Linked DNA regions of Homo sapiens. The protein of the gene in region 1 purifies or fractionates together with the protein of each later gene. This does not show direct contact. Each region holds a gene or a part of one and is shown in the gene's direction. Other genes may lie near its edges. The genes, in order: PPP1R12B, PPP6R2, IMPACT, ASB1 and GMDS.

Evidence for each region.
Region 2: the proteins of PPP1R12B (region 1) and PPP6R2 purify together in Homo sapiens (affinity purification with mass spectrometry; one large-scale study listed by BioGRID and IntAct). This does not show direct contact.
Region 3: the proteins of PPP1R12B (region 1) and IMPACT purify together in Homo sapiens (affinity purification with mass spectrometry; one large-scale study listed by BioGRID and IntAct). This does not show direct contact.
Region 4: the proteins of PPP1R12B (region 1) and ASB1 purify together in Homo sapiens (affinity purification with mass spectrometry; one large-scale study listed by BioGRID and IntAct). This does not show direct contact.
Region 5: the proteins of PPP1R12B (region 1) and GMDS purify together in Homo sapiens (affinity purification with mass spectrometry; one large-scale study listed by BioGRID and IntAct). This does not show direct contact.

What each region holds. Positions count from the first base shown.
Region 1 is NC_000001.11:202,421,505-202,425,824, forward strand, and holds part of PPP1R12B (protein phosphatase 1 regulatory subunit 12B), read left to right. Parts: intron 1-1,115; coding exon 1,116-1,234; intron 1,235-4,061; coding exon 4,062-4,221; intron 4,222-4,320. UniProt on the Homo sapiens protein: Regulates myosin phosphatase activity. Augments Ca(2+) sensitivity of the contractile apparatus.
Region 2 is NC_000022.11:50,419,441-50,423,760, forward strand, and holds part of PPP6R2 (serine/threonine-protein phosphatase 6 regulatory subunit 2), read left to right. Parts: coding exon 1-22; intron 23-2,813; coding exon 2,814-2,940; intron 2,941-4,021; coding exon 4,022-4,174; intron 4,175-4,320. UniProt on the Homo sapiens protein: Regulatory subunit of protein phosphatase 6 (PP6). May function as a scaffolding PP6 subunit. Involved in the PP6-mediated dephosphorylation of NFKBIE opposing its degradation in response to TNF-alpha.
Region 3 is NC_000018.10:24,439,686-24,444,005, forward strand, and holds part of IMPACT (protein IMPACT), read left to right. Parts: intron 1-810; coding exon 811-933; intron 934-3,363; coding exon 3,364-3,467; intron 3,468-4,320. UniProt on the Homo sapiens protein: Translational regulator that ensures constant high levels of translation upon a variety of stress conditions, such as amino acid starvation, UV-C irradiation, proteasome inhibitor treatment and glucose deprivation.
Region 4 is NC_000002.12:238,432,930-238,437,249, forward strand, and holds part of ASB1 (ankyrin repeat and SOCS box protein 1), read left to right. Parts: intron 1-624; coding exon 625-766; intron 767-2,781; coding exon 2,782-3,084; intron 3,085-4,320. UniProt on the Homo sapiens protein: Probable substrate-recognition component of a SCF-like ECS (Elongin-Cullin-SOCS-box protein) E3 ligase complex which mediates the ubiquitination and subsequent proteasomal degradation of target proteins.
Region 5 is NC_000006.12:1,930,904-1,935,223, reverse strand, and holds part of GMDS (GDP-mannose 4,6 dehydratase), read left to right. Parts: intron 1-4,320. UniProt on the Homo sapiens protein: Catalyzes the conversion of GDP-D-mannose to GDP-4-dehydro-6-deoxy-D-mannose.

The sequences.
Region 1 (4,320 bases):
TGTCACATTCCTGTAATCCCAGCTAATCAGGAGGCTGAGGCAGGGGAATTGCTTGAACCTGGAACGTGGAGGTTGCAGTGAGCCGAGATCGCACCATTGCACTCCAGCCTGAGTGACAGACCAAGACTCTGTCTCAAAAAAAAAAACAAAAAAAAAAGGGGTTTCTTCAATATAGTAGGGGTCCAGTAAATGTTTATTGAATTGTTGAATGGATTGAAGTCTAATTTGAATCATTTTTCTTTTTCCTTTAAACACTTCTGAGTATTTGATAGAGCTCCTAGCGTTATTAGAGTTCTCACTGGCCCAAAAGTGACTTGATCTAAAGAAAAGATGAACTAGATTTGAAGTCAAGACTGGGGCTGTACCCTCTGCCATTTACCCGCTATGTGGTTTTGAGAAAATTACTTAATATGTATGAACCTCAATTTCTTAAAGTCATGGTAATAATACCCACATTGCCTACTTCATAATGTTGCCTAAGACTTATGATATAATTTTATGTGAAAGCACTCTGAAAATCAAAAAGGATCTATGTAAGGTATTGAATTATCAGACCTTTCTTCTTCAGAATCAAGTATTCTATTTGGATTTAGAATTTAATTATTTAACATTTTAATATTTCTTCTTAAGTAATTTAGTTTCGTCTTACAGCACAGGAAGATTTCATGTGGATGTCTGGTTGATAGGAGAGTTTTATGGAGGCATAATTTAGGCAGATTTATGCAAATTTTAATGCACACTTTATTCTTCTATTTTCACACCCACAGCACTACTTAATAAGCTCCAGTGTGGCACTGGGAAAGTTTAAGGCTGCATGCCTTCTTTATGTTACTTAGAAATTCTCTTGCCATCCACTGGGAGTGAGAGGATGGGAGTTAGTAATATGAGTGTGAAAGAAATCCTGTTTGTTGGCATTGCTCTAGTCAGGAAATGGGGAAGCCTTCAGTCTTAATTATTGAAGTTTAAGGCACATAGAAATTAATAATGGAATATCTTAACTGAGACCATATTTTAAACTCAAAATAGAGACTTCGCTGTGTATTGAATGCCAGATGCATGGGTAAAATTTATATTAGATTGACAGATAATATTGATCCTGGATCTTGTCTACGCAGGTATTTCATTAATCACGGAGCCAGTGTAGGTATTGTCAATAGTGAAGGTGAAGTTCCCTCTGACCTTGCAGAAGAGCCAGCCATGAAGGATCTTCTTCTGGAGCAAGTAAAGAAGCAAGGTAACCTCATGGATTGGAGGGGGCCAGGAAAGATTCTCAAACACTGCCATTTACAGAAAATAATCCATTTGCTGTGCAGAGCATTTCACTATCACATGACAGGAGAGGATTTGATCTGTCTGCACTGCATTAATCATTAATCCAGCATCATGTATCCTCATAATAACTCAGACAAGAATAGGCCAGATGTCAAAAGGATGACCAATCATTCCTTGTTTTTGCCATTCAGAGGTTGCATACCCATCATACAATTAAGAGTGACCTGATGAGGACTGTGTGTATGCACAGTACTGTGTGTATGCATGGTATTGGGATACAGTGTAAATTTGAGAATTGGCTAAACTGAGTTTGTGACTTTGCATCTTTTCCCTTGTTGAGAGCTAAAAGTGGTGCTGATAAAGATATTTATTGTAACTAATCATGAGAATTAGTATGATAATTTGTTAAGGTGAGGAAGCTAACTTAGAATAATATATTCTAAAAATGCTTATTCTTATTTTATAGTTTTAGGAGAATCGATTTCACAGAATAGGATGGAATTTTTCAACCTGGAAGTCCCTGGGTTCTTTTTCCACCACAAAACTCTGCGGACAAGATTTGTAGTGATTTTTTTTTTTAGTCCTTCTGCTAAACTACCTTACTCACAATCTTGCAGTTCATCCCAGAGGATTTAGCTCCAGTGGTCTTTCCCAATATGAACTTTTAGAACAGTCAGGGCCAATTCTTGCTATGCGCATTGTTTACATATTATCCAAAACTGCTTTTGTGCCACAACAGCAGAGTTGAGTAGTAGTGATAGATTGGATGAACCACAAACCTGAAAATACATATTGGCCCTTTGGAGAAAGTATGCTGATCCTACCTTAATATAGTGATGTTCTAGGTCAGTAACTACTTGCTTTTGCTGCCTTTCATGTATAGTTTTTCTGTCCTATTTTGTTTGTTTGTTTGTTTTTTGTTTTTGAGACAGGGTCTCACTCTGTTGCCCAGGCTGGAGTGCAGTGGTGCCGTCTCAGCTCATTGCAACCTCTGCCTTTCAGGTTCAAGTGATTGTCCTGCCGCAGCCTCCTGAGTAGCTGGGACTACAGGTGTGCACCACCATGCCTGGCTAATTTTTGTATTTTTTGGTAGAGACAGGGTTTCACCATGTTGGCCAGGCTGTTCTTAAACTCCTGACCCCAAGTGATCCACCAGCCTCGGCCTCCCAAAGTGCCGGGATTAAAGGTGTGAGCTATAGCGCCTGGCTTTGTGCGCTATTGAATTGAAGAATTTTATGCTTAGCTTAACCTCCAGCCTCAATCAGTTTTATCTCCTAAGATTTGCTTTAAAATGTACAAACAACTTTAAAAAAATCAGTTTTAAAAAATAGTTTAGATTGGAGCAACCACTTTTTCTGTTTTGATTGCTGACTCTTCAATGAGGGAACATACTCTGTTGAAAGGGGTATTCATATATATGTTTAACTTTCCAGCACTGCTAACACTTCTTTGTGTTTGGAGTACTGATCTGATTTAAATTGGTTACCTCTTCACCCCATCCATCTCCCAAAATCACACAGATAATACTTAGGTAGTTGACAGGTTCTCTCTTTTTTTTTTTTTTTGAGACAGAGTCTCACTGTGTCTCCCAGGCTGGAGTGCAGTGGCGCAATCCCAGCTCATTGCAACCTCCGCCTCCCAGGTTCAAGCAATTCTCATGACTCAGCCTCCCAAGTAGCTGGGATTACAGGCGCCCACCACTATGCCCAGCTCATTTTTGTATTTTTGGTAGAGACAGGGTTTCACCATGTTGATCAGGCTTGTCTCGAACTCTGATCTCAGGTGATCCACCCACCTAGGCTTTCCAAAGTGCTGGGATTACAGGCATGAGACACCGCACCCAGCAGTTTCTCTTTTAAGAGCTGAAAGGGAGTAGACCAAGCACAAAGACTGCTAATGAGTGTAAAACTTTTTGAATGGGTATGTTTGTATTTGGGACATTTTATTATTTTGTATAATGGGGTATGCCTCACCCTAACCCCTTTTCACTGGCACAGATATTGGAGAGTTATTGGCTAAAGGGAGGAACTCTTGGAGTTCTTTCATAATGTTTTTAAGGAAAACAAAATCTGCATTCCCTTGAAAGCAGACAGGTTTTTAAACTGCAGATCACCTACTAATCTGTCCTAGATTATATATCTTCAAGTCAGTGTATTTACCTGTATATGGAAATGAACTTTAGAGATAGTTCAATTTTTAAAGTATATCAATACCTGAAACCAAGATTTTGGATACTCATCCTATGGTATAGTGAGTGGATAGGGACCCAGAAGAGGAATGACAGAGAGGGACCCAGGATATCGGAGTTCTAGCGGCAAGTTCTGTCACTAATGTGTTTTGTGGCTTTGAGCAAGATTCCTAACCTTTCTATTTTTATTTCCTCATCTGTTAAATGAAGATTGTAATATCTATTATATTTACCTTGAAGGATTGTTGGGAAACTAAAGTCATATAACATGTAAAAAGACTTGGAAGTTTATAGCTTTGTACAAATATTATAATGTAAAAATAATGTCCCCTTTGTCTTTATGTTCTGTTGAAAACAATTTTAGGTGCATTCCCTTAATGGATCTGTATCACATAATATTTAACCTGATGATTTAATCCTGGTAAGACCATTAATATGTGTACAAATGCCATTGATCTTCTAAATTTGATAATTACCCAACTTGATGGCTAAATTGTTATTTGTATTTATGTTTATGATGTGCTTTAATCTAAGGAAAATATCCTGTCAAACTTAAGTGGAGCTTTAGTAATCCTGGCTGTCTGGTATCTGGTTTCTGTAGGAGTTGATCTAGAGCAGTCAAGAAAAGAAGAAGAGCAGCAGATGTTGCAGGATGCCCGCCAGTGGCTCAACAGTGGGAAAATAGAGGATGTGAGGCAGGCTCGCTCAGGGGCTACAGCCCTTCATGTGGCTGCTGCCAAGGGCTACTCTGAAGTCCTCAGGTATTGTCCATTTACATCAATCAGGAGTGGTTCACTGGGAGAAGATGGAATAGGTTTTGGAAGCAGAGGCTGAATTAGATTTTCCGCTATGACGTGTTT
Region 2 (4,320 bases), on another chromosome or scaffold:
TGCTGGAAACCAGGCGGGTTGGGTGAGTCTCACGAGGAGAAATCGTGTAGAGCTGAACTTGACGCCTCAGTGATATGGCAGCCCACACGAGCAGTCTGGATTATGTCATTTGTGGTTTTAATTTTTGATTATGCAAGTAACAACATGGATAGATTCCCCTTGTTGAAGGCTTGACTTTATGGCTGTGGCCAAGTCCCCTTAGACCCTCATCATCACTGGTGCTCCCTCTCCAGCCTGAAGCTGCTCGTCACGACCAGTTGGCGATGCATTTGTCGATGTGCGTGGAACAGGTGTGGTTGGCAGGTTTTCCCCAAGGACTGTTCCGACAAGTCCCCACAGCTCCCGTGTGTGTTTGTGTGTGTGTCGCAGGGTTTCCACTCTGATGCATGGTTACATATACATGTGTTTATCTCCCATGCAGACTGGCCCTCACAGGGCAGGGGTGTGACACTCACCGCTGTCTCCCGTGCCCTGTGCACCCACGGGTCGGCACCGCCTGCTGAGCGTCGTGCTGAGCACTTTTTTCCCAGGCGACTCTCCTCCATTGCCCTTTCTCATTCATCAGGTGTCATTTCTGCACCCACTGTGCACTAACACGGGCCCGAGGAGACAGAGAACTGAGACACAGCCCCTCCCCTTTAATTGCTCCCAGTCTGGCACAGGAGGCCCGTCTGTGGACAGCGAGGGTGATGCAGAGTGGCGAGTGCAGTAGACATGCACCCAGTGCCTCGGGGCTCACAAGAAGGGACCCACATGGGGCTGGTGGGTGGAGCCTCGCAGTCAGGGACATTTTCCCTGAGAGGCCGCATCTGGTCAGACACAGCTCCTTGGATGAGGCAGTGAGGGGGTCCCAGTGTGGACACAAGCATGGGGCAGTATGTGGCAGAGGAGAGTGGAGCTTGCTTGGAGGTGCTCCTTTGCTGTGACCCCACATCGCTGTCCTGAGGTGCAGCTGTCGGAGGCTGCTGAGTCACGACAGTGAATGGGCAGAGACAGAGGAGTCAGCAGCAGAAGAGTGAGTTCGGGTGAAAGTTGAGTTTGTTTGAGGATATAGGTGCTGGAGACCCTTCTCTGACCCCCAGTAGAAATTTCAGGAAGTGTTTGAAACTGTTTCTCTGGATCATAGTGTGGCCTAGTCCTTCCCTCAAGTCATAGAAGGCTGGGCACTGCCAGAGCCGTTCAAGCAGTTGAAACTCCAAAGAGGATGCCCATGAGGCGCAAATGGAAAGACAGCCGAGTGGAGTCTGTGAGGGAGGCATTGGCACAAGGGGGTGTGGTTGGCCCGCCAGGTGCCCAGGAGATCCTATAGGGTGTGTCCCAAAAGGGCCACATCAGTGTCCTCTGGGCACTTCCCCTCCTGGCCTCACCCTGGCCCTTGAACCCCATCTCTGGATTCAGGTTCCCCACATGCCGGCAGGAACCTGATGTCTCAGGACGTTTCCGTCGTCTCCGTTCCATCACAGGCTGGGACGATGTCTAACTCTCCCAAGGTGGCCGTAGCTCCCTTATTTCCACGTTCTGGGGAGAACATAATTCAGCCCCCAACACTGATAGCCTGTGCTTTTTTAAAGTGAAAGAAAAAGGAACAATGAGAAAATGATAAGAAATTGACTTAACCTTGATAGTGAGGTTGTTAGGACTCTCTTTCTCTCTCTCTCTCTCTCTCTGTCTGTCTCTGGTAGTACCTAATACATATTTGTTAGTTTATTAACCAGAAGTAGTGTTATAATGTTACCGTTTTCTCTAGTTAGGCAACTGGAATATTGATATTTTAATCTTCATAAACCCAGGAAAGCTGAGCCACTTCTGAGGCCCAAGCTTAACCCTGTATGTGATAGAGGGGACTGTGTAAAAATCAGGAAAACAGAGATAAGCCAGCTGTTTCTCTTAGATTATTGTGATTATTATTATTATTATTTTCAGACAGTGTCTTGCTCTGTCACCCACGTGGGAGTACAGCAGCACGATCATATCTCAGCGTGGCCTCAGAGTCCTGAGCTCAAGCGATCCTCCCACCTGTCCCCCCCAAAGTGCTGGGATTATAGGTGTGAGCCACTGCACCTGGCTCTCTGATTTTTAAAATTATTTTGCATATTACTTTAAAAAATATATGATTACGTATTACTTTTACAACTGGAAAGAGTGTTTAAATAAATATCTCAGAAGACTTGCTTGAAAACACCACAGGGGGTAGGCGCAGTGGCTCACGCTTGTAATCCCAGCACTTTGGGAGGCCAAGGCGGGTGGATCACCTGAGGTCAGGTGATCGAGACCAGCCTGGCCAACATGGCAAAATCCTGTCTCTACTAAAAATACAAAAAGGAGGCTGAGGCAGGAGAATCGCTTGAACCCAGGAGGTGGAGGTTGCAGTGAGCTAAGATCGCACCATCGCACTCCAGCCTGGGTGACAGAGCGAGACTCTGGCTCAAAAAAAATAAAAATAAATAAAAATAAAAGTCGACACAGGAACAGTGAAAGAGACAGGGATAGCAGTGAAGGTTTTAAAAGTGGGACAGAGCAGGACCTCTAACTGGTGCTAGGGCCAGTGAGTCCTGTGTTGTGTCACTTGCCCTGCCTCCATATTCTCGGATGTCGCAAGCAAGCATCTGCCTGAAGGTCTTTAGTACCTTTCTCTTCTGCCTGTACCAGTCACCAGATCACGTGTGGAGACGCTGGGTAGCTGCACTGCTCTAGGGTTTCTTTTTGGGAAAGTTAAAAGGGCTCTTTCTGGAAGAAGCGGGTGCACTGAGTTGCTGGTGAGGTTGGACAGGGTCCTGGTGTCCCCGGTCTCCATCTGCTTTCCTCATCCACAGGACAGAGGGCTTGGTGGACTCCTTTTCTCAGGGACTGGAAAGGTCATACGCTGTCAGCAGCAGCGTACTACACGGCATCGAGCCTCGGCTGAAGGACTTCCACCAGCTCCTGCTCAACCCGCCCAAGGTAAATGGCCGTGGCGACTGCTGAGTGCCTTTGGAGGCGTCGCAGGAGAGGTTGATTTGCAGGGAGGAGAAGCCACAGCTTGTCCCATAGGTAGCAGAGTGTGGAGTGAATGTGTTCTAAGACGGCCATTCCCACACCCCCACTTGAGAAGCACCGGGCAGGTGCCAAAACACATTTTCAGGACTGCCCCTCCCAGATCTGCAAATGCTCATCTCTGCCTCTGCAAATGACCCCGAGGTCACCATAAGCCTGGCCTCCAAGTTGGGGGCACCTAGCTAAGGGGTGCTCGGCTCCTGAGAGGGGACCAGGGGGTGGCAGGGGAGGCCCTTTGCCCTGCTCAGCAGCATGTTGAGGGGGGTGAGGCACACAAAGGCTCCTCCTGGTTCAGACTGCCAGCCAGGCAACTCCCCATCCCGTCTCACCCTCCCCAGACACAACCCGACCCCTGCTGCATAGCACCCTCCTGACCTATAGCTCAGTTCCTCTCACTCGCCACCTTGGTAAGATCCACCTGTCCCACTAGCGAGCTCTGTGGGGGCCAAGATTCTGTTTTGTCAGCTGGAGGTTTCAGTGAAGAGAAGGTAGGTGCAGTAGGCTGAGTGTGGGGGATCAGAAAAGACCGCGGTCCATCGGAGGAGGCATTCCCGTCAGTGTCCCCAAAGTGTGTTCATGGGACACTTGTTAGCTTGGTGTTCTGAGATTGTGGCCGCAGAGGGACCCCCACTGGGCATCCTCAGTGAGGCATCGTGCCAAGGGCTCTGGCCTTAGACCGGTACTGCTGGCCCCATCTTGGACATCTCACCCGCTGAGGTGCACGGCTCTCTGGCCCTGCAGGCTCAGACTGGAGTGCCCGTGAGCATCCTGGGAGCACTCTCTGAAGCCCTGAGGGGAGCAGCAGGCTCTTCACCCCATTGATGCCTTCATTTCTTCTGGCAGACGGCCCTCCCTGAGGAACCCCCACCACATACCTCGCTACCCCAGGCTGGGTCCCAGCCTAGAGTGATGGGCATGAGCCCAGAGACTCCAGCAGTGGCCTCACTGCTCACAGGGCCTAACTGGGTGGTGCCTTCTGTGTTTGCAGAAGAAAGCGATCCTGACCACCATTGGTGTGCTGGAGGAGCCCCTGGGGAATGCCCGTCTGCATGGCGCCCGCCTCATGGCAGCACTGCTGCACACAAACACACCCAGCATCAACCAGGAGCTCTGCCGGCTCAACACGATGGACTTACTGCTGGTAAGTGGGCCCCTCAGCCAGCCCTGCATGTCTGTGAGTGTGCCGGGCATGGCCTGTGGACTTGTCAGGAGCAGCAGAGCAGGGCCCCAGCATTTGGACAAAGCTCTGCCACGGGGAGGTTCCAGTCCCAAGTCCCAAGGCTGGAC
Region 3 (4,320 bases), on another chromosome or scaffold:
CCTGTAATTGCAGCTACTTGGGAGGCTGAGGCAGGAGAATCACTTGAACCTGGGAGGCGGAGGTTGCAGCGAGCTGAGATGGTGCCACTGCACTCCAGCTTGGGTGACGGAATGAGACTCTGTGTCAAACAAAAGTAAACAAATATATGGGTACTGTGGCCTAGACAAGTTGACATGTAAGATTAACCATTGCAGTCACTGTCTTTCTCTTTGTAGCTTGAGGGAGATACTTTGAAGCTATGCTAATATCCTGTTTCTCCTTAAACTTTCTGCCACTAATTTTAGTATCTATCCATGGAACTTGTCAACAATATTTATTACTGTGGTGTTTGCCTGATGATGATTTTCTATTTTCTTCATTCCTTCCTCATTTAGTAATTGGAATTCTATTATGAGGAAGGGATGTCTCTTCCCATTTATGTATTTATTTATCTGTTTATTATTTATATCAGTATGGACTCATGTATATTATTTCAGTCCATGGGTTAAAATGCCATCCTATCATATTTTTTTGTTGCTCAAATTGTTCTAGCTTTGACCTTTAAGAGCCCCTTCAGGTTAACTCCTGTGTTCTTTTTATAAGCCCCATCTCTTTTTGAGCATTTCCCAGTTTGTGGATCCACATGAGGTTCCAGGTTCATCTTGTAGTTTCCTTGCTCCAACTCAGGAATCAACCAGTTCTCCTACGGGCTGAGTGCTGGTTCCTTTCGTTGAAGAGTGGTATTTAGAACCCAAGACCCAGTGATTTTTTTTTAAAAAGCATCGTTTCTTACCTGCGTCATAAAGTAATTGTGTCTCATATTCACATAGGCCCAGATGTAAAGAAGAAAACTGAAGAGGAAGATGTTGAATGTGAAGATGATCTCATTTTAGCATGTCAGCCGGAAAGTTCGCTTAAAGCATTGGATTTTGATATCAGTGAAACTCGGACAGGTATAATGTTACTAACTAATTTCTTTTGAGGAGAGTGGGTTGGTAGTATTATGTATTGTTCTTTGAGATGATAGAGAAATTTACTAATTTTCTCCAGTTTTAGGAAGGAGTTATTAATTTGCAGATAAGATTAATTTTTTCCTGCCTGTTGGCAATTTTGGTGTTTGCCAAGTCTTATCAGAATGGCAAGGAAAAAATGGAAATTTACTCTTTTCCCCCTACTTTCTAGAGTTTTGATTTAGTGATGGAAGAAATTGAAACTAAGAAAGGCTATTAACGTTTTTAGTTAACATCATGTTTTTATATTTCTGTATTGAAATCCTTAGCTGTTTCCTGATGTTTCAGGATTAAATTTTAGTCTGTGCTCACAAATACAAATATATTAACTGAAAGTGCAGCCCTGGAAATTAAAGCTAGTAAAATGCCTTTAAGAGGTTTTTTTTGAGAGACAAGGTCTCGCTGTGTTGCCCAAGTTGACCTTGAACTCCTGGGCTCAAGTGATCCTTCTACCTCAGCCTCCGAGTAGCTGGGACTACAAGCATGCACCATTGTGCCCAGCTTGAGTTCAGTTTTTGTTTGTTTGTTTGTTTTTTTGAGATAGAGTCTTGCTCTGTTGCCCGGGCTGGAGTGCAGTGGCACGATCTCAGTTCAATGCAACCTTGCCTCCCAAGTTCAGTGATTCTCCTGCCTCAGCCTCCTACGTATCTGGGATTACTGGCACATGCCACCATGCCTGTCTAATTTTTGTATTTTTAGTAGAGATTGGGTTTCGCCATGTTGGCCAGGCTGACCTCAAATGACCTACCCACCTCATCCTCCCAGAGTGCTGGGATTATTATAGGCGTGAGCCACCACGCCCGGCCTAGTTTTCGTTTAAACAAATTTGTTTCGTAATCGAGTAGTATTCAACATAAAAATAGGTTGCTGTGATATTATGTTTCATTTTAATATTTTAAAATTTTGAATGTTATTGTTAGTTTCCCTAAGCCTCTTAGGAAAACATGGTAGACCAGGGGGAATATTCATTCTGTTTGAAGGTGAGGGGTTTCCTGTGTCATTACACAGTAGCTTTTAAAAGGTGCTCTGAGTTTTAAGGCTTTTGAATGGTGTCCAGGACTAGTAGAAGGGAACAAAGAGGAAATGAAAGAGTGGGGAGCATCCAGGGCTCTCATTTATGCTCTAGCCTAAGTAGCTCCCATTTTAATCATTTATTTGTGTGTGGATTTGACATATGATATCTTTTGAAAACAGGATCTACCATGAAAAGAAAAAGGATAAAAATCATACTCATAAATAAATACTATCAATTGGTCAGTAGTTCATATTGACCCTAATACTGTATTTGACTTATTACTATGTTAGTACAGCAGTCAAAATCAATTCAGGAAAAGAACAGTATCAGAGGGAAGGTGTAAAACATCTTACATAAACCTACTTTCTTGTCTTGAATAACTTTTCATCCTAAGTGAGGCAGGTAGTAGTAGCCAGGACGATTAAGTCTCTCAACAGAATTGAGGGTTAATTAGTGATTCTTTTTTTTTTTTTTTTTTTTGGAGATGGAGTCTTGCTCTGTTGCCCAGGCTGGAGTTCAATGGCACAAACTCGGCTCACTGCAACCTCCGCCTCCCAGGTTCAAGCAATTTTCCTGCCTCAGCCTCCCGAGTAGCTGGAATTACAGGCACACGCCACCATGCCCAGCTAATTTTTGTATTTTAGTAGAGACGGGGGTTTCACCATGTTGGCCAGGCTGGTCTCAAACTCCTGAACTCAGGTGATCCACTCCCTCGGCCTCCCAAAGGGTTGGGATTGCAGGCGTGAGCCACCACGCCCAGCCATGATCCTTAAACTTGTTTTAAGAGGTATAATAACTGGAAATCATGATGCTCTTTAAGGAATACCAATTGGATGTATTATTGATGTATTTAATTCCATCATATGAAGTAGAAACAGTTTCATTAGCAGAAGGCATTATATTATAGCTACACAATATAAAGAATATAAATTCATAGTTTTCCCAACTCAGAGGTCTAACAACAGTGAAACTGATAAATAAATTTTATATTAGCAGCTATAAATCTTTGGTTTCAGGACTCCTTTACACTCTTAAAAATTATATATTAGATATTGTACCAACTTACACTACTGACTGCAGCAGTTCAAGATTAGTCCCAACCCACTGCTTCCCCTGGGTAACCTTGGCAGGTGGAAATCATTTATAAATCAAGTATTTTAATCTTATGTACAATATAGTTAGAAACTTTTTACTTAAAATTATAATTTAAATTTAATTTTGGTAGATAGCGATTAATGGTTATTTTAGTTGATTTGCCATGTAATTTACATTTCTTTCCCAGCTGCCCCCCCATTTCATTTTTTTCAGTATTTGAATGTAAGGCTTTTTAAAAAATAAAGTTTCTTTTACATTTCTAGAAGTAGAAGTAGAAGAATTACCTCCGATTGATCATGGCATTCCTATTACAGACCGAAGAAGTACTTTTCAGGCACACTTGGCTCCAGTGGTTTGTCCCAAACAGGTAAAGTTCCTTTGTCTAGCTCACTTTGATGATTACTAAAATAATTCAGGTAAATGATTTTGCAATAATCCCCTTGTTTTTACTTTTATGTTTTATTTTCATATAAGATAAAAATTATTTGTTCATTTTTCTACTCCCAAATTACTGTGAATCACGGAAGATTTGTTTTGTTTCTGTTTGTCTCTGCTTTCTTTCTTTTTTTTTGTGATGGTGTCTCACCATGTTGCCCAGGCTGGTCTCAATCTGGACTCAATCAGCCCTCCTGCCTCCAGCCCTCCCAATCCAAGGTATTGGGATTACAGGCATAAGCCACCTAGCCAGGCCTGTCACTGCTTTCAAAATTGTATCTAAACTCTGATTAGGGGTTAACCCTCTAATGAATCTTTAAATAAGAAATACCCATTGTGTTATTAGAGAAAATTATGATGCTTAATACCTTGTCAAAAAGAATTATTTGTCCTGTCGAATGGGAGTTCTGTGAAACTAAGTCCATTCCTCTGTTATTATTCAACAAAGGGGACAGTGGACAGACTGGCTAAACCAAGTCCTCCCTACCTGACTTACTTTCCTTTGTGCTTCTTGATCTTAGGTGACCATATTTCCACCCAGGGATATAAATGGGAGAGGTTTCAGCCATAAACTATTCCTAGGTCTTTGCCTTTCTCATTCTCCTTTCAGCAGAATCCTTTTCTTCTTCCTTGCTTCTATAATGTAGCTCAGCTTACATTATTGATGTACGAGGCAATTTCAATACTACCTGTAAAGTTACATTTTTAAAAATGTCTCATTTACTGCAGGTTTTAGGCATGAGTCTCTTCCTTTGGTCTTTGCAGCTACCCTACTCTTGAAGCTC
Region 4 (4,320 bases), on another chromosome or scaffold:
TAGAGATGGGGTTTCACCATGTTGGCCAGGATGGTTTTGATCTCTTGACCTCGTGATCTGCCCGCCTCGGCCTCTCAAAGTTCTGGGATTACAGGCGTGAGCCACCTCACCTGGCTCAATCTGCTAATTTTTTCTTTAGGATCTTGCATCCGTATTCTTCAGGTTTGCCTTATCAGTGGATTCTTTGACACAATATTGATTCAATCTGCTGATATTTTCTTTAGGATCTTGTTTCTTTATTCTTCAGTAGGTTTGGCTTATAGTTCCTGGGCCCCATCAACTTTTAAAAAATTATTCTTGTCAGCGTTGGTGTCAGGAGTGTGCTAATTTAATAAGGGAAGGTTTCTACTATTTTCTGTGATTTATTTCTTTTGTTTTTACAGACAGGGTATTGCTGTGTTGCCCAGGCTGATCTTGAACTCCTGGCCTCAAGTGATCCTGCCTCAGCCTCCTGAGTAGCTGGGATTACAGGCGTGCCACCATGCCCAGCTTGTGATTTATTTCTTGAGCATTTGAAGGTGCCCCGTAGCTGGGAGAGGGAAGGCTCGCTGCAGATGGCACCCCCTTTTGGTTAGTCTTGGCAGGGCCTCCATGAGCTAACAGGAGCCCCTCTCTTCAGTGCAGGTCGTAATCTGAAGGAGTGGCTGAGGGAGCAATTTTGTGATCATCCGCTGGAGCACTGTGAGGACACGAGGCTCCATGATGCAGCTTACGTCGGGGACCTCCAGACCCTCAGGAGCCTATTGCAAGAGGAGAGCTACCGGAGGTGAGCGGCGCTGCCCAGGGCTGGTCCGGGTACTAGGGCCCTGAAGGTCTGTGTGAAGCTGAGCCCCACAGTCGCTGTGCAGATGAAGACCTTGATGTTGGGAGGAATGTGTTCCAGTTTTAGAGGACGGGGATAAAGGAGACTGAGGCAGCATGGTCAGAGTTGTAGGAGACAGCCAGACAGTGTGGGCAGGGAGACCTGAGTTCAGGTCCTGCTCTGCCATTAACCTTAGTGTTTTCTGGCAACTTCTGGCCTTCTGTGGGCCTCAGCCTCCTGATGTCACTCCTGAAGGTACCACTGTTTCCCTCTTCAGTGGCGGCCCTGCCCCATCTTGGGTTTCTCGTGGCTCTTAATTGCAGGCGCTTCTGTACATTCACCCTGCTTCACCACCTTCCCTAGTGCCCTTTCCTCTAGCTTCTCAGGCCCTCAGTCATCTGCCCCCGGGACCTGGGCCTCAGCCTTAGGCCCTTTTACCTCATCAGCCTTCTCCTTTCTGTTCCCCTCATCAGTGGTCCCCTGTCCTGGCCTTGCCAAACTCTGCCTGTCCCCACAAAATGGCTCCAGCCCTTCCTTCGCAGCAAGTGATGCTTGCCCTTCCCTCTCCCTGCTCAGGACACCTGGGGGAGCAGAGTCTGCTTGCTCTCTGGACTGTTCTCTGATTGTTCTGCGGGTCTAAGGTTGCAGTCCCAGCTAGAGCTTAAACTCAGTAGCAGCCAGGAACTATCCATGCTGCTGTTGTGTTTCCGCGTTCCCTTCAGGACCCAAATGCCAGTGCGGTGGTAGAAGCAATGCCTACATGTTGGCGCCGAAACTAATGCCACAACTTTTCTTTGCATAGTTCCCAAGAAAAGGATTTCTAACAGTACAGGAATGTATTTCTTCATTTCCTTCTAGTGTCTTAGCAGTATTTCATCAAAACAGATATCAGTATTTAAAAGAAAAATACCAGAAAGGACTGTCATAGGAAGACAGATGGATTACGCACAGATATTTAAAGTGGGTGACTCAAGCCCAAAGAAAACCTTAATTCAACTTGCAGATGTAACAGAATGAAATAGAGTTCGGTGAGGTCTCAGCCCAAGTCTTTCTATATTGCATTTCCCAGCACTGTTTCTCCTCCTTCTTTTACTCAGGCTCAGGGCATCTCTGGTTCTTTACATTTTCCCATTGCTATTTGCTTCTTTGGTGATGAGTTCCTGGAGTGTTCCTCGACTTTCCTGGGCAGTCAGAGCCTAGGCGCAGCTGGCGGAGGAGCCCCGAGGGCTGGCTTGGGAGCTGCTTCCCCTGCATGTTCCTGGGCCCTGGTTTGGTGCTCTGGGCCTCTGAGCTTTGTTCTCAGTGACACTGGGAGCTCGCTGTGAACCCGTTGCGGTCGCTGCCTTGCTGGGTCGGTGGGTGGGGCAGGCAGTTGCAGTCTGATTGTGACATCTGCCGAGAGCTGAGTCTGGACAGGTTCCTCTGCCGCTCTTGGCCAGGGGTGTAGCCCCCGTGCCACCTTAGTGATTCCTTCAGGCCATCATTTGTGCAGTGTTAGAGGTTGGGGGCCTACATAGTCACCTAGTCCTGGTGAGGATGCTGAGGCCTAGAGAGGCCCAGCCTCAAGCCTTCACAGATGGTAACTGGGGAAGAGCAGCCTAGGGGCTCTTACCCAGACTCCCGGGCGAGTGCGCTGTTCATTTGGCACTGCCTCCCAGGCAGACCCTTCCCACCTTTGTAGAGGAAGGCACTTCAGATGGCAGTCAGGAAATCTAAGAACTAGAGATCTTAGTTTTGGTGCTGATCATTCTGCAGGTGCCTTGAGTTTCCTGTCTCTGGAATGGGGCTCGTAATGCCTGCCCTGCCATGCCCCGGTCCCGCAGGGGAAAGGTGTGAGAGCATTTCAGAAGGCAGAGCCCAGGTGGAGGCGTTATTAACCAGAGGGGGACCGTGTCCATGCTGCCAGGGTGAGGGGGGCAGTGCAGCCCGTCCCTGTCCTGCGGCTGCCTCTCATGAGCCCCCTTGTGTTCCTCCTGCAGCCGCATCAACGAGAAGTCTGTCTGGTGCTGTGGCTGGCTCCCCTGCACACCGTTGCGAATCGCGGCCACTGCAGGCCATGGGAGCTGTGTGGACTTCCTCATCCGGAAGGGGGCCGAGGTGGATCTGGTGGACGTAAAAGGACAGACGGCCCTGTATGTGGCTGTGGTGAACGGGCACCTAGAGAGTACCCAGATCCTTCTCGAAGCTGGCGCGGACCCCAACGGAAGCCGGCACCATCGCAGCACCCCTGTCTACCACGCCTCTCGCGTGGGCCGGGCAGACATCCTGAAGGCCCTCATCAGGCCAGTACTGTGGAGCTCGCCTGGCTCCTGCAGCCACTTTATTTTTCTTCTCTGTATTTTGCAGTTTTTCTGTCTTTAGAATTCGGCTCTTTAGATGACTCGCCTGTTTTGCTGGCCTTTGTAAAGAGCTGCCTCTTGGCTTTATCAGGTCTCTTTGTTTTTTGGCTTACCTGTTCCTTTATATTTACTTTTATCTTTTTCTAATTTTTAGTTTTTTTTCCCTTTTGAGTTGACTGCTTATTCATTTTTTCTTAAGAATGCAAACTTGCAACGTTAATTTACCTTTTACTATAGTTTTGACCATCCTCTCTAGGCTTTTTCCTTATTATTTAAATAGCTCTAATTGAAGTTGATTTCCTCTTTGTTCTTAGAGTTATGGAAGATAAGGTTTTAATAATGCTTTTTGTTGTATTATGCTCAGATAATATGGACCAGATAGTTTTCATTTTGGGGATTCTTTGACGTAAAAAAATTATTATTATTATTATTTTTGTTTAGTTTTTGAGGTGGGGTCTTACTTTGTTGCCCAGGCTTGAGTGCTGTGGCGTGATCATAGCTCACTGCAGCCTCAAACTCCTGGGCTCAAGTGACCCTCCTGCCTTAGCCTCCTTAGTAGCTGACACTACAGGTGTGCACCACAATGCTGGCTTCTTCTTATTTTTTAATGTCAGACTACATTGTTGTGAATGCTTGAAACAAGTACATGACCATGGGTGTTTTGTTTACATATTATACTTTGTTAGGTTAGCACTCTCTCTCTCTTTTTTTTTTTTACATTTTTGTCATTGGATCTGCCAGAAATTTAAAGAATTCTGTTAGTCTCTGATCACATTTTTGATTTTGCCATTTTTTCCCCTTGTACTTTGAATAGGTTTTGCTTTGAAAATTTTGATGCTAATTGAACTCATAAAAGTTCCTGCTTACATATTATGCTCTATCAAAACAAGAGTACTATTAGTTTTATTTAAGGCCCATTTACATGGCATTATGTAATATTTAGTTTTAACCCTAGGGAGTTTCAGTAGTTCTGTTTGTGCTTGTGTAGAACCATTTGTCTAGGAGTTTTTGCTTTTTAATACAGTGAACATTATTGCTATAGCTGATGTTGGGGTCTGTTTCTGTTATCTTTCTGTTTTGTAACTGTTTCCATTTGATATCTTTTCTTCTTATATGTTGTTTTTTTCTTTCCTCTTCCATTATACTAGGTTTACAGTCTTATTTTATTTTATTTTTTTT
Region 5 (4,320 bases), on another chromosome or scaffold:
TTCAGAGTGGTTAAATGGTTTGTGTAAGATATCACAGCTGGTTACTAACAGAGCTGGCTTTCCCTCCATTCATTGAGCTAACTTTTCTTAGTCCTCTTTCTAACGAGAATCTTATAGTTTAAGGCTTTATAAATCAAGTATGTATTTAAGTTAATTATAGGGGTTCCATTATCCACATGTGCTATAATAATTCACAAACACTTAGGTCATCTCATCGCAGAAGAGATTCCTCCTGCATTGCACTGTGGCTTAGCAAAACAGCACAAGGCTAGAAAGCCAGTGAGACAGGCCTGGGTCCGGCTCGGCTACTTGTCCTGACTCAGGACAGGTGTGCAGCCTCTGTGCGTTTCTCTTTCTTCACCTCTCACTTGGGATAGTCTCAGCCCTCATGTTCTATGCTTTTATATAGTTTCTTCCTTAAAAGAGCATTCTTCTGTAACATGGAGTAAAAATGAGGAGAGCAAATTTAAAAAAAAAATCATTTTAAGCCTTTCTTGAGAATTAAGTAGTAAAACATGTGGTTACAAAAATGTTTAAAATTAATCCAAAACTTTTTCTTGAAATCAAGAAAACAATTGTATTTATAATAAAATAAAAAAGAATAAAGTGTTTAGGAACAAATTTAGCAGAAGTGTAAAAATTATTCTCTGAAAACTATTAAACATTGTTGAAAGAAATTTTAAAAGACCAAAATAAAGGAGAAAGACATCCTATATTCATGTATCGGAAGGCACAATAATGTTAGCATGGGCATAGCCTCCATTTTGATCTACAGATTCAACATGATCCCTTTCAGAATCCCTGTTGGTGTTTTTGCAGAAATCAACAAGCTGATCCTAAAGTTCATATGGAAATTCAAGGGACAGAGAATAGCTAAAATAACCTTAAAAAAGAACAAAGTTGGAGAACTCATACTTCCTAATTTTTAAACTTGCCACAGAGCTACAGTAACCAGGACTGTGTGGTACTGTCATAAGGATAGACATAGAGTAAGTACATCAATGAAATCGAATTGAAAGTCAGAAATTGTCTCCCACATTTTTCATTAATTAATTGATTTTTGAGGAAAATGCTATTGAATGGGAAAAATAACCTTTCTAACAAATAATACTGAGACAGCTGGATGTCAACATGCAAATGAATGAAGTTAGACCCTTTCATCACACCATATATAAAAATTTACTAAAAATTGATCAAAAATTCAAATGTAAGAAGAAAAACTATAAAACTCATAAAAATATATAGGAATAAATCTTCATGACCTTGGATTAACGAAGCCTTCTCGAATATGACACCAAAAGCATCTGCCACACAAGCGAATGTAGACAAATTGGACTTCATCAAAATTAAAAGATAAAAAAGCTTTTATGCTTCAGAGAGCACAACCAAGAAAGTGAAAAGTCAGCCTACAGAATGAGAGAAAATCTTTGCAAATTATATAGCTGATAAGGGACTTGGATCCAGAATGTATAAAGAATTCTTACAACTCTATAATAAAAAGATAAGTAATCCGATTTAAAAATGGACAAAGGATCTGAATAGACATGTCTCCAAAATTGATATACAAGTGGCCAGTAGGCACATGAAAAGGTAGTTGCTTCATATGATTAGTTATTGAGAAGGACACATCGGAACCACAATAAGATACCACTCGGTGCCAACTAGCATGACTACAGTTTAACAGACCATAACAAGTACTGGGGAGAATGGGAAGAAATCAGAGCCCTGTTACCCTGCTGGTGGGAATGTAAAGTGGTGCAGCCACATTGGAAAAGTCTACAGTTCCTCAATTGGTAAAACAGAGTTCTCATATGACCCAGCAATTCCACCCCTAGGTATATACCTAAAAGAAATTAAAGCATACGTTCACAAAAAGGCATGAACGCTCATGGTAGCATTATTCACAAAAGGCAAAGGATGGAGGCACCACAGATAGTCATCTCGTGGACGGTTAAATAAAATTTGGTATATACATATAATAGAATATTATTTGGCCATAAAAAAGGAACAATGTACTGATTCAAGCTACAGTATGGATGAACCTTGAAAATGTTATGCTAACTAAAAGAAACCAGAAACAAAGACCAGACATTAATATAATTCCATTTATAGGAAGTGTCCAGAATAGGCAAATCTAGAGATAAAAGGTAGATTATCTGTATGCCAGGGCTAGGGTACTAGGAGAAAACTGGTGAGTGACTGCTAAATGATACAGGGTTTCTTTTTGGGATGATGAAAGTGTTCTGAAATTGATTGTGATGATGGTTGTACATTTCTATGAATATAAGAAAAGCCATTGAAGCATATGCTTTAAATGAATGAATTGTATGCTATGTGAATTATATCTCAAAATAGCTGTTCTAAATAATAGTTAAAATTACATTTTGAGCGGGCGCGGTGGCTCATGCCTGTAATCCCAGTGCTTTCGGAGGCCAAGGCAGGTGGATCACGAGGTCAGGAGATCGAGACCATCCTGACTAACACGGTGAAACCCCGTCTCTACTAAAAAATACAAAAAATTAGCTGGGCGTGGTGACGGGCACCTGTAGTCCCAGCTTTTCGGGAGGCTGAGGCAGGAGAATGGCGTGAACCCGGGAGGCGGAGCTTGCAGTGAGCCGAGATCGCGCCACTGCACTCCAGCCTGGGTGACAGAGTGAGACTCCATCTCAAAAAAAAAAAAAAAAAAGAATTAGAAATTATAGTTAATTTTGGCTAGTTATCCAAGATAACTTTAGGAACCAGATAAGAAAAGATCCACCTTTCTAGCACGACATGAAAGTTCTGGTAATATAAGAACTTGGTAGTCATATAGCTCTCGATTTGAATGCTGTTTTAGAATAGTTAATTTATATAGCTTCCCTGAATCTCAGCTTCTTCATGTACAAAATGGGGGTAATATTAGCACATGGGTTGCTCGGAAAATTAAATGAGTTACCCCATCTAAAGAGCTCAGCACAGTGCTATCAGCGATAGCCCTCATTGGAGGTGCCATAACCATCATAAGGTTGTGGTAAGAGTTGGAAGAGAAAGGCCCTTCCTCATCTTTGCAAGTGCCGTTCCTCCTGCCTGGAGTACCACCCTGTCTCACAGCTTGATGAGTCCCTTCATGACCTCACTGGTAGACTCCATTCAAGCTCCATTTCTGGTAGGCATTTCTCACGTGCGTTGCGCCTGGCAGCCATGCTACAACCCCAAAGGCTTTCCCCCCTTGCAGACCTGGCATTTTACTAGGTTCAGCACTGGTTTATTGGCCCACCTGACCCTCTCTGTGATACCTGAGAGCAGGGGCTGCTGCTTCTCTCCCAGATCCCCAGTGCCTAGCTCAGTGCTTAGTGATTGGTGGGTGCGTAGTCAACACTGGGTAAAAGAATCAATAAATTGTATGAATAGGGTCAAATACTTCCATTGGACTCCCAAACATTACTTTACTGGTAAACAGGTTAATCTGAAATGTTTTATGTTGGAATCTTCATTTAATAGTTTGCCATCATTGGTTTCTTAGTATACTTTGAGAAAATAGTATAGTCCTGACATTGAAATAATGATAAACATCAAAAAACCTAAATTTAATTCTTACAAGTCAATAGAAAAATTTTTAAAATTACTAATTAGCCACTAATTACTTACTGGCTAATAAGTAGTTTTTCATTTCGAAAGGCACTTTTTTTTGAAGGACCTCTATGTGCTATATAAACCTCTGTGGAAAGTTGAAACTTTGTATTTCTTAACATACCATCTGAATTGACAAGGGGAATTGAAAATTTGGATTTCCACGGTAGTCCCATTGTATTTCTTAATGATAATGGTGTAGGTATAAATGTACGTATCAAGTTTGTGGAGTAAGTGAATCTGGTGTATGTTTGAACTTGCGCTAAGCCACGTTCTTGCCAAAATTTGGAAAACCTATTTAGAAATATTCCCCTTATCCCTGTGCCAGCTCTCCAGAAGCCAAACACTTTGATCATAATATTTGCCTCCCTGCTTCATCTGCAAAAGAACATAGTTAAAGTCATTGGTATGTGATAAATCATGATATTCACATATCTAAACTGTATGAATCCATTATTAACTAGCTAATATGAGTATTATTACCTTGAGAATTTGGTATTAAATGGTGTTTTCTCATAACCTTACCTAGATAACAAGGTAAAACTGTCTCAGAAGTGCCTTTTAACTTTGTGATCTTTGAAAAAGCAGATAGAGTTTTCATTAAAGACCAGAGAACATTAAAACAATTTCAGTGCTTTCATCAAGATATGGCCCCTTTCAACCAATCATTTCAAAATATTACACAAAATTTAGGAGCCCTTTCTGTAAATA